Linked DNA regions of Homo sapiens. The protein of the gene in region 1 interacts with the protein of each later gene in a pairwise test. Each region holds a gene or a part of one and is shown in the gene's direction. Other genes may lie near its edges.

The links. Proteins that work in one complex are often made in the same cells at the same time.
Region 2: the proteins of ZNF467 (region 1) and ZNF451 interact in a two-hybrid assay, tested with the Homo sapiens proteins (one large-scale study listed by BioGRID).

The regions. Positions count from the first base shown.
Region 1 is NC_000007.14:149,770,789-149,774,952, reverse strand, and holds the start of ZNF467 (zinc finger protein 467), read left to right. Parts: upstream 1-1,364; 5' UTR 1,365-1,845; intron 1,846-1,865; exon of another isoform or gene 1,866-1,930; intron 1,931-2,191; exon of another isoform or gene 2,192-2,249; intron 2,250-3,456; exon of another isoform or gene 3,457-3,487; coding exon of another isoform or gene 3,488-3,568; exon of another isoform or gene 3,569-3,634; intron 3,635-3,878; coding exon of another isoform or gene 3,879-3,920; coding exon 3,921-3,954; intron 3,955-4,164. UniProt on the Homo sapiens protein: Transcription factor that promotes adipocyte differentiation and suppresses osteoblast differentiation in the bone marrow. Enhances the osteoclast-supporting ability of stromal cells.
Region 2 is NC_000006.12:57,152,688-57,156,187, forward strand, and holds part of ZNF451 (E3 SUMO-protein ligase ZNF451), read left to right. Parts: intron 1-1,173; coding exon 1,174-1,360; intron 1,361-3,500. UniProt on the Homo sapiens protein: E3 SUMO-protein ligase; has a preference for SUMO2 and SUMO3 and facilitates UBE2I/UBC9-mediated sumoylation of target proteins. Plays a role in protein SUMO2 modification in response to stress caused by DNA damage and by proteasome inhibitors (in vitro).

The DNA.
Region 1 (4,164 bases):
AAACCTGATATCCCTCCGAGTATCCTGTAGAGTCATTCCACCTAGGGGAGGAAGGGGGCTGCTGTTAACCAGAGCTGGGCCGGGCTCTCCTTCTCCTGGGTTCACCATTGGTCCCAGGGCCAAAAAAGGGCCCAGAGTGAGTCTCTCAGGGGGTCACGGATGACTGGGATCAACTCCTGCTCTGGAGTCCTCAGAAAGAGCCACACGCACACCCAGACACCCCCCTTTCCTGTTTTACACACATGCACACTCTCACTGTAAGTCTCACAACACCGGCACAGGTGCTCGGCCACACCCCAGCACGCACAGTGACACATGCTACTCCAGGTGCTCCCTTCATCCTGGAGGCAGAGGAGCCTTCACAGCTGAGCCCGAGTGATGGGCGCTCTTCCAGGCACTCATCCTTGTGGTGGGCTGTGGTAGCAGGAGCTCAAGGGCCATTCACACCCTCCCCTTCCCAGCCTCACTCAGCTCTGGATTCAAACCGGGGCTGATCAGGCAGCACTGGGATTGGGAAGAGACCCGAGTTGCAGTCACCCTTTCCCGTAAAGGGGCAGAAGGGAGGAAGCTGGAACCCAGGGGTTTGGAGAAAGTTCATGGAGAGGAGACCGGGAACTAACAGTCCAGACTTCAGCATCTCCGGAGCTTTCAGGAGTGGGCGCAGCGGGAACAAGGCCAAGGAGAAACCTCGTAACCTGGGCAGGGAGGGCGAGTGGAGTCCCCTGAGGAGCTGGGGCTGAGGGCTGAGGGCTGAGGGCTGCCCTCCACATCTAACTCCAGGTGGTGTCCGGGCCAGCAGGCCCCCCAGCAATCGTCTCCCGCCCATAGAGCCCTCCCCTCTCTGCAGCCCCCTCCCAGACCCTCCCCCGGACCCCGCCCTCAGAATCTCCGCCCAGCCCCGTCCCAGCCTTGCCCCCTGGAGCTCCCGACCTGGCCCGGCCTTCTCCCAGGGGACCTGGCTTAAAGTCCTCTCCCCAGTTTCTACTTCGAAGGACCCGTTCTCGCAAGCACAGGGGCCCAGCCCTCTCTCCCGCCTGCCCCCACGGCTCCCGCGGCTGGTTTCGAATCGGGTCCTCGGGACTCCAGGCGAGGGGCTGCGGGTCTGGGTGGATCGGGGTGGAATCCGGGTGGAGAATGGGGGCGGGGCCGGAGTTTCCCAGACCGACCCCCCGGGCCGTCCTCCCGCGGGAGCGCGGCGCTGCACACCCGGCTGGCACCGGCGACTTAGAGACGGCAGCGCACGACTCGCTGGCTCCCCCCCGACACGGCCCCTCCTCGTTCCCCCAACTCCTCCCCGCCACCCCCCCACCCGTTCGCGCTCCACCTTTCCCCGGCTCCTCCCTCCGCGGCCGCGAGCACCCTCCCTTGGCACCCTTCCCCGCAGCCCGAGTGCCTGTCCTCCCCAGCCTCCTCGCCCTCCTCCACCCCCTCTCCCATCACCCTCCCCTCCCCTCCCCTCCCCTCCCCCGTCCTGAGCTCCCACTTCCACACCTACTCCAGGCTCGGAGCCTTAGGACCATCACCTGCCCACCTAAGCCCACGGTGCTCCCTCCTGGGACCCCACTCCTGAAACCCCCTGCCCCTGCCTCCCCCAGCCCGGTGCGCCGGGGCTCTCCGCCCGCTCCCTCGGTCCCTCCTCCCTTGCAGGCGCCGTTTCCCGGCTTCGACTCCCCGCGCGTCTATCCCTCTCCTCCCCGCGAAGTTTCGGGGCTGTCAGTCTGTCAGTCTTTCAGGCCGTCAGCACCCGAGCTGCAGGCGGCGAGCGCCATTGTGAGCAGAGCCGGCGGGGCAGGAGGCCCGGGCGCCTGGGTCCCCGCGGCGCGGGCGGAGCGGCCGGCCAGCCAGGTAAGGGCCGGGGAGGCTCCTCTGCAGGCGGCCCCGCCCGCGTCTCCCTCAGCGCCGCGGTTGGGTCACGGCCGGCTCCGCGCAGGTGACAGCCCCGGGGGTAGGGGCGCGGACGGCGGGCGTGGGGGAGGGGCGCGGGTCCGGGGAGGTCGGGGGCTGGGGGGAAGGGAGGGCAAGGCCGGCGCGGGCAGGGTGAGGGCTGTGGGGGTAGAGGAGACCGGGGGGGCTGGAGGGAAGGGCGGGGGCTGGGAGGGGGTCGGGCGGGAGGCAGGTGGGAAGGGGGACGACGGGCCCCGAGGGGAGGAGAGAGGGAGTGTGGGAGGGGGCCGAGGGGGAAGGGGAGGAAGAAGCGGGCGCTGGGGACCGGGCCACTCGGTAGGGGCGGGAGAGGAGGGCGCTGACAGGTGAGCCCCGGAGCTGGGGAGGGGGCCGGGACCTGGAATGAAGTCGGCGATCGGAGCTGCTTGGGAGGGCGGCGGGGCAGGGAGGTGGAGCTGAGGGTCCCGTCGGGAGGAAAACTTGGGAGGGGTGAGAAGTCCGAGGGGAGCAGAAATAGGGAGGGGGCGCCGCGGCGGAGAAGAGAGGCGCGGAGGGGTGTTCGGAGGGGAGACGGAGTGGGGAGGGCAGGGCCCGCGGGAAGGTCCCGAGAGAGCGGGTCAGCCCTAGACCCCCAGGCTTGGGGGCCGGAGGACCCGGGAGCTGGGAAGCAGCCTGGGAGGGGGGAGGGGAAGAGCGGTTCTGGGGACTGGGGACGGGGAGGGAAGCGAAGCTGGAGCCTGCTGGGGAGACAGAGGGGGAAGGGAGGCGGGGGCCTCGGAGGGGAAGGAGAGCTGCAGAAGGGAGGGGGGAGGGGGAGGGCGGTGGGGAGACGTGGGGGAGGGCTGGAAAGGGGGAGGGGAAGGGAACCGAGGTGAGGCGAGGAAAGGAGAAGGAAGGGAAACCGGGGTGGGGGAGGAGAGGAGGGAGGGGAGAGGAGAACTGGGTTGGGGAAAAGAGCTGAGAGGAGGAGGGCGGGGGTTGGCGAGGAAGGAAAAGAGGAGGGGGAAAGGAAGGGAGAGGGTGTGCAGCCGGGGAGGGAGATGGAGCGGGGGAGAACCGGGAGGGTAGGGAAAGGCAGCCTGGAGTCTGAGAGGGGGAGGGGAGCGCTGCCGCCGAGGCGGCCCGGAGCGTAGGGTCAGGGGAGGCGGTGGCAGCGGAGGGCCGACCCGGACGGGGCCTCGAGGGGTTGGCCCTGCCGGGCTCGGGCGGGCGGAGCCTGAGGGGCGGGGCCGGGGGCGGAGCCGAGGCGCCGGCCCGATTCGCAGGGGAGAGAGGGCGGAAGGCAGAGGGAGCGGGAGGGGCGGGGCAGAGGGAAGGCTGCCGGGGAGATGGGGGAGGGGAGTCTGCTGGGGGAGGGGCGGGGGAGCCGCGGAAGGCGGAGCAGGGAAGGGGCAGCAGGGGCGGTGTCCGGGCCTTGGGCAGCCCGGCACGGGTGAGAGGTGGTTTTGTGGTAGGGGTTTAGGAAGAGGCGATCATTTTCTAGCTACAAGAGGATCCTCTCGAGGACCTCCCCAAGCAGTACCCCTAAAGTGACACTCACTCCCGCCCCTGGGCTGGCTCCTATTTCACCAGCTCGGGCAGTGACAGCTGGAGGACCTGGGAGATGAAGTTTCCCACTCCCCACCCTGGGCTCCCACCCTCAAGCCTCTCCCCAGAGAATCGAATCTTGCCTGCACTTTCCCAGGCAAGGACGCTGGGGCGTGGAGTTGCGGTGCTGATGGGCCGGGGTTGGCGGTGACAGACCTGCCAGGTGAGGGGGTGGCGCGGCTGGTTTCCAGAGCTGACAGAAATCGTTTCAAGGCCTTCTTGGGCCACCTTCAAAGATCTCTTGGCTTGGCTTTCTAAACCCAGTTTCCCAAATTTCCCCCAGCTGTACCTGGGGATGTCACCTTTGGAGCTCCTGGAAGAGCCCATAGGGAGAGGTTGGGCAGAGCCAGGGCCCAGGTGGAAGCTGGCGTGGGAAAAATCTGAACAAGGCTGTCTTTTCTCCATAGGTTCTGTGGCCTGATCCCCAGGAGGAGCTACTCTGGGTTACCATGAGAGAGACCTTGGAGGCCCTCAGCTCCCTGGGTGAGCTGGCAGAAATGAAGGGACTTGGGGAAAAGCTTAGGAGGATTCAGGGGCATCTACAACTCAGACAGCAGAGCCACCCTCAGGAGGCTGCAACCCTGAGGCCCCAGGGGCCTGTAGGTCAGCCTCCTTTTCTGTAGCACGGGGTGTCTGAATGCCTGGAACATGGTGGAGGCTGCGCTCTAGACCATATGTGCACTTGAGCACTCA
Region 2 (3,500 bases), on another chromosome or scaffold:
GGCTGAAATGGTTCTTGTGCCTCAGCCTCCCAAGTAGCTGGGACTACAGGAGCATACCACCATGCCCAGCTAATACTTGTATTTTTAGTAGAGACGGGGTTTCTCCATGTTAGCCAGGCTGGTCTCAAACTCCTGGCCTCAAGTGATCTGCCCGCCTAGGCCTCCCAAAGTGCTGGGATTACAGGTGTGAGCCACTGCGCCCTGCTGATGATACTGTATTTGATATATATTAAGACACTTTCATATTTTAATATCTCTAAAATTAAGAGGTACCTTAACAATCACTGTTGGCCTAGACAGAATTTGCATTTGCTTCTGTCTCTGCTGGGTACCTAGAGAAACTGCCAAACTGAGACCCACTTTAAATTTTCTGCTTGGGGACTTACATGTCACACTGATAATGTGAATTTACTCTGCAAACTTGTTGACTGCAGCTTATGGTTTAAACAACAAAAGATTTCTTTTTCAGTCTATCTAATGCCAAGATTGAATCATGCAAATTGCCTTGCTTACCTTTTCTCTATGGCAGATTTATTTCTTATTTACCCTTATATTGAGCGTATAGCCCTTTGGCATTTCAACCTTATGTGAGGTCTGTTGGACTTCCATTTTGGCTTTTTCTTTTCATGGCACATTAAATAGCTTATATAATTTAATGGCATCTTATATTTGATTAAATGTGGGGTATTTCATTTATGAACGAGTTCTTTCTTTCTCTCTTTTTTTTTTTTTCCTTTTTGAGACGGAGTGTCACTCTGTCGCCCAGGCTGGAGTGCAGTGGCGCGATCTTGGCTGCAACTTCTGCCTCCCGAGTTCAAGTGATTCTCCAGCCTCAGCCTGGAGAATCCCGAGTAGTTGGGATTACAAGCGCATGCCACCACACCCAGCTAATTTTTGCATTTTTTAATAGAGACCGCGTTTCACCATGTTGGCCGGGCTGGTCTCGAACTCCTGACCTCAAGCGATCCACCTGCTTTAGCCTCCCAAAGTGTTGGGATTACAGGCGTGAGCCACTGCACCCAGCTGAAGGAGATCTTTATGTCATACTTTGGTAGGGACTAGGGAACAAGCTTAATATACCTTCCTAGGCATGTGTTCATTCTGAAATAGATGTAACTTGTTTTGAAACTCATGCTGATTTTTTATCAACCTGTGCCATTTGTTCTAACTTAGGCTGGCCGTCTAGATGAACAACTACCCAAGCAAATTCCTTTCACCATCCTCTCAGGAGATCAAGGTTTTCTGGAGCTAGAGAATCAATTTAAGAAGACTCAGAGGCCAGCTCATATACTAAACCCTCACCACTTAGAGGGAGATATGATGTGTGCCTTGTTAAATAGCATATCTGATACCACCAAAGGTACGCAGCTGCAGTCACAGTGCAAACCACCCAAGAGGAGGAGACTTCACTGCTGAGAGAAACCAATAAACTGCTGTCCGCTAGTGAACTGTTGCCTGCTTGCTAAACCATCATGTTCTCTTACTTCTATCTTACTTATCTTTTTTAAAAAAATCTCACTTTCATTCTTTAGTGTTTTAGAAGGAGGATGAATTCATAATAATTTTCTGGAGCTTTTTTTGATCTAGTAGATAAAATCTATATTGATGTATATAAAACATATATTCATGTGTTACAGTATGTTACTACAATTTTAAAAGCTCAGAATTCAGATCTTCACTTTGTTTCTGAAATTCCAAGTTGACCTTCAGTTTTTTAGAAAGCAGTGCGCTTAGAGGTGAAAACCAGAAAGCAATAACAAAGGTGATCATTTAAGAGGTTGACAGTGACAAAATAAAACGCTGATAGGCTTTTAGGTCCTTAGAGAAGTGGGTACATCCTATCTTATTGCTGGGACTTGCACTTTCTTCTGTACCTTTGTGAGATTGTTCAATGAAAGGAGTGCTGATACCCAATTTCACTTCCTAGTATATAAGAAAAGATGTAATTCTAAGGATTCAGAAGTTTTGTTTTTCGTTTTTCATAATTTCTGCAGTCAAATGCTCTACCACTGAGTTATAACCCCCTTTTTCATAATCTCTGAAGTAAAGAAATATGGATAGAATAATTAATGTTTAAATATCCTAATAATTTAAATTCATGAATAAGGTTTGAAGATATTAATGAATTACCTTAATGAAAAATAGTGGCTTTTTGGCATTTTTATTGTGTGCCTTTAAAGCTTTCAAGTCTGCTTGCCTCCTAGATTTTTTTTTTCTTTCAATATATTTGGAAGCACATTTTGATTGAAAACTCATTCTGGAGAATTTTGCTGTAATCACTGATTACAGTGGATCAATTCACTTCTGCAAAGTTAGGAATCAGTAATCTGTGCTCTTTATACTCTTTAAAGTGGAGTAATGATGGAAGATTATAAAAGAAAATGAACTCTTGTGTCTTTATGTCATGCCTTAGTTCTGAGTATTATCTTCCTATTCTGTAATTTTTGTTTTCACTTGTTTTTCTATCTGTGGCTTTCTTTTTTCTTAAAACAAAAAACAAAAAAACAAAAAAAACAGGCTGGGTGCAGTGGCTCACACCTGTAATCCCAGCACTTTGGGAGGCTGAGGTGGGTGGATCACCTGAGGTCAGAAGTTCAAGACCAGCCTGGTCAACATGGTGAAAACCCATCTCTACTAAATATACAAAAATTAGCTGGGCATGGTGGCGGTTGCCTGTAATCCCAGCTACTCGGGAGGCTGAGGCAGGAGAATCGCTTGAACCCAGGAGGCGGAGGTTGCAGTGAGCTGAGATTGCACCATTGCGCTCCAGCCTGGGCAATAAGACCAAAAACTTCGTCTCAAACAAAAAGCAAAACACCTCTTCTACTCTTTTGCCATCGCTTTCCCAGTTCTCAACATCTACTTAATATCCTATAAGATAAAGTTTTACCTTTGCCGCACAAGGCCAACCTCCCTTTCCTTCTCTTATGCTTCTGCTTTTGGGAACATTTCTTTTATAACTCCAAATGTGAAACCTGTTATGGTTTTGCAGAGGCAAAACCATATTCTGTTTGGAATGAGAGGTGAATACGAGTAGACTTGCATGGGTATATTACAGTTGGAGGTAAGATACAGGTTATTAATATCTGCTGATTATGCCCTTCCAAATGACTCTTATGTTCTAGGTATTCTTTTTTTTTTTTTTTTTTTTTAATCACTCATACTCAGTACTCATTTGAACTAACTACTCTCTGGAGGCACATGTGTACTTTATTCTTAGTTTTTGTGACATACAGAGATTGTGCACTGCATGAAGAAGGATATGGGCTTTGGTTCAAATGCTAACTTTGCTGTTTCCTAGCAGCGCGATTTCAGGCATGTTACTTAACTTTTTTGGAGCCTCATTTTTTTGTATTTATATGGTTGTAATAGTTAGTGATGTATGTAAAGTGTCTAGCACAGTATATAAAGCACTTTAGCTATTTAACAAATAATAGCTATTTTTTATTATTACTACCATAAAAAGAAAATGTGATTCCTAGCCACTACATTTTTAATGT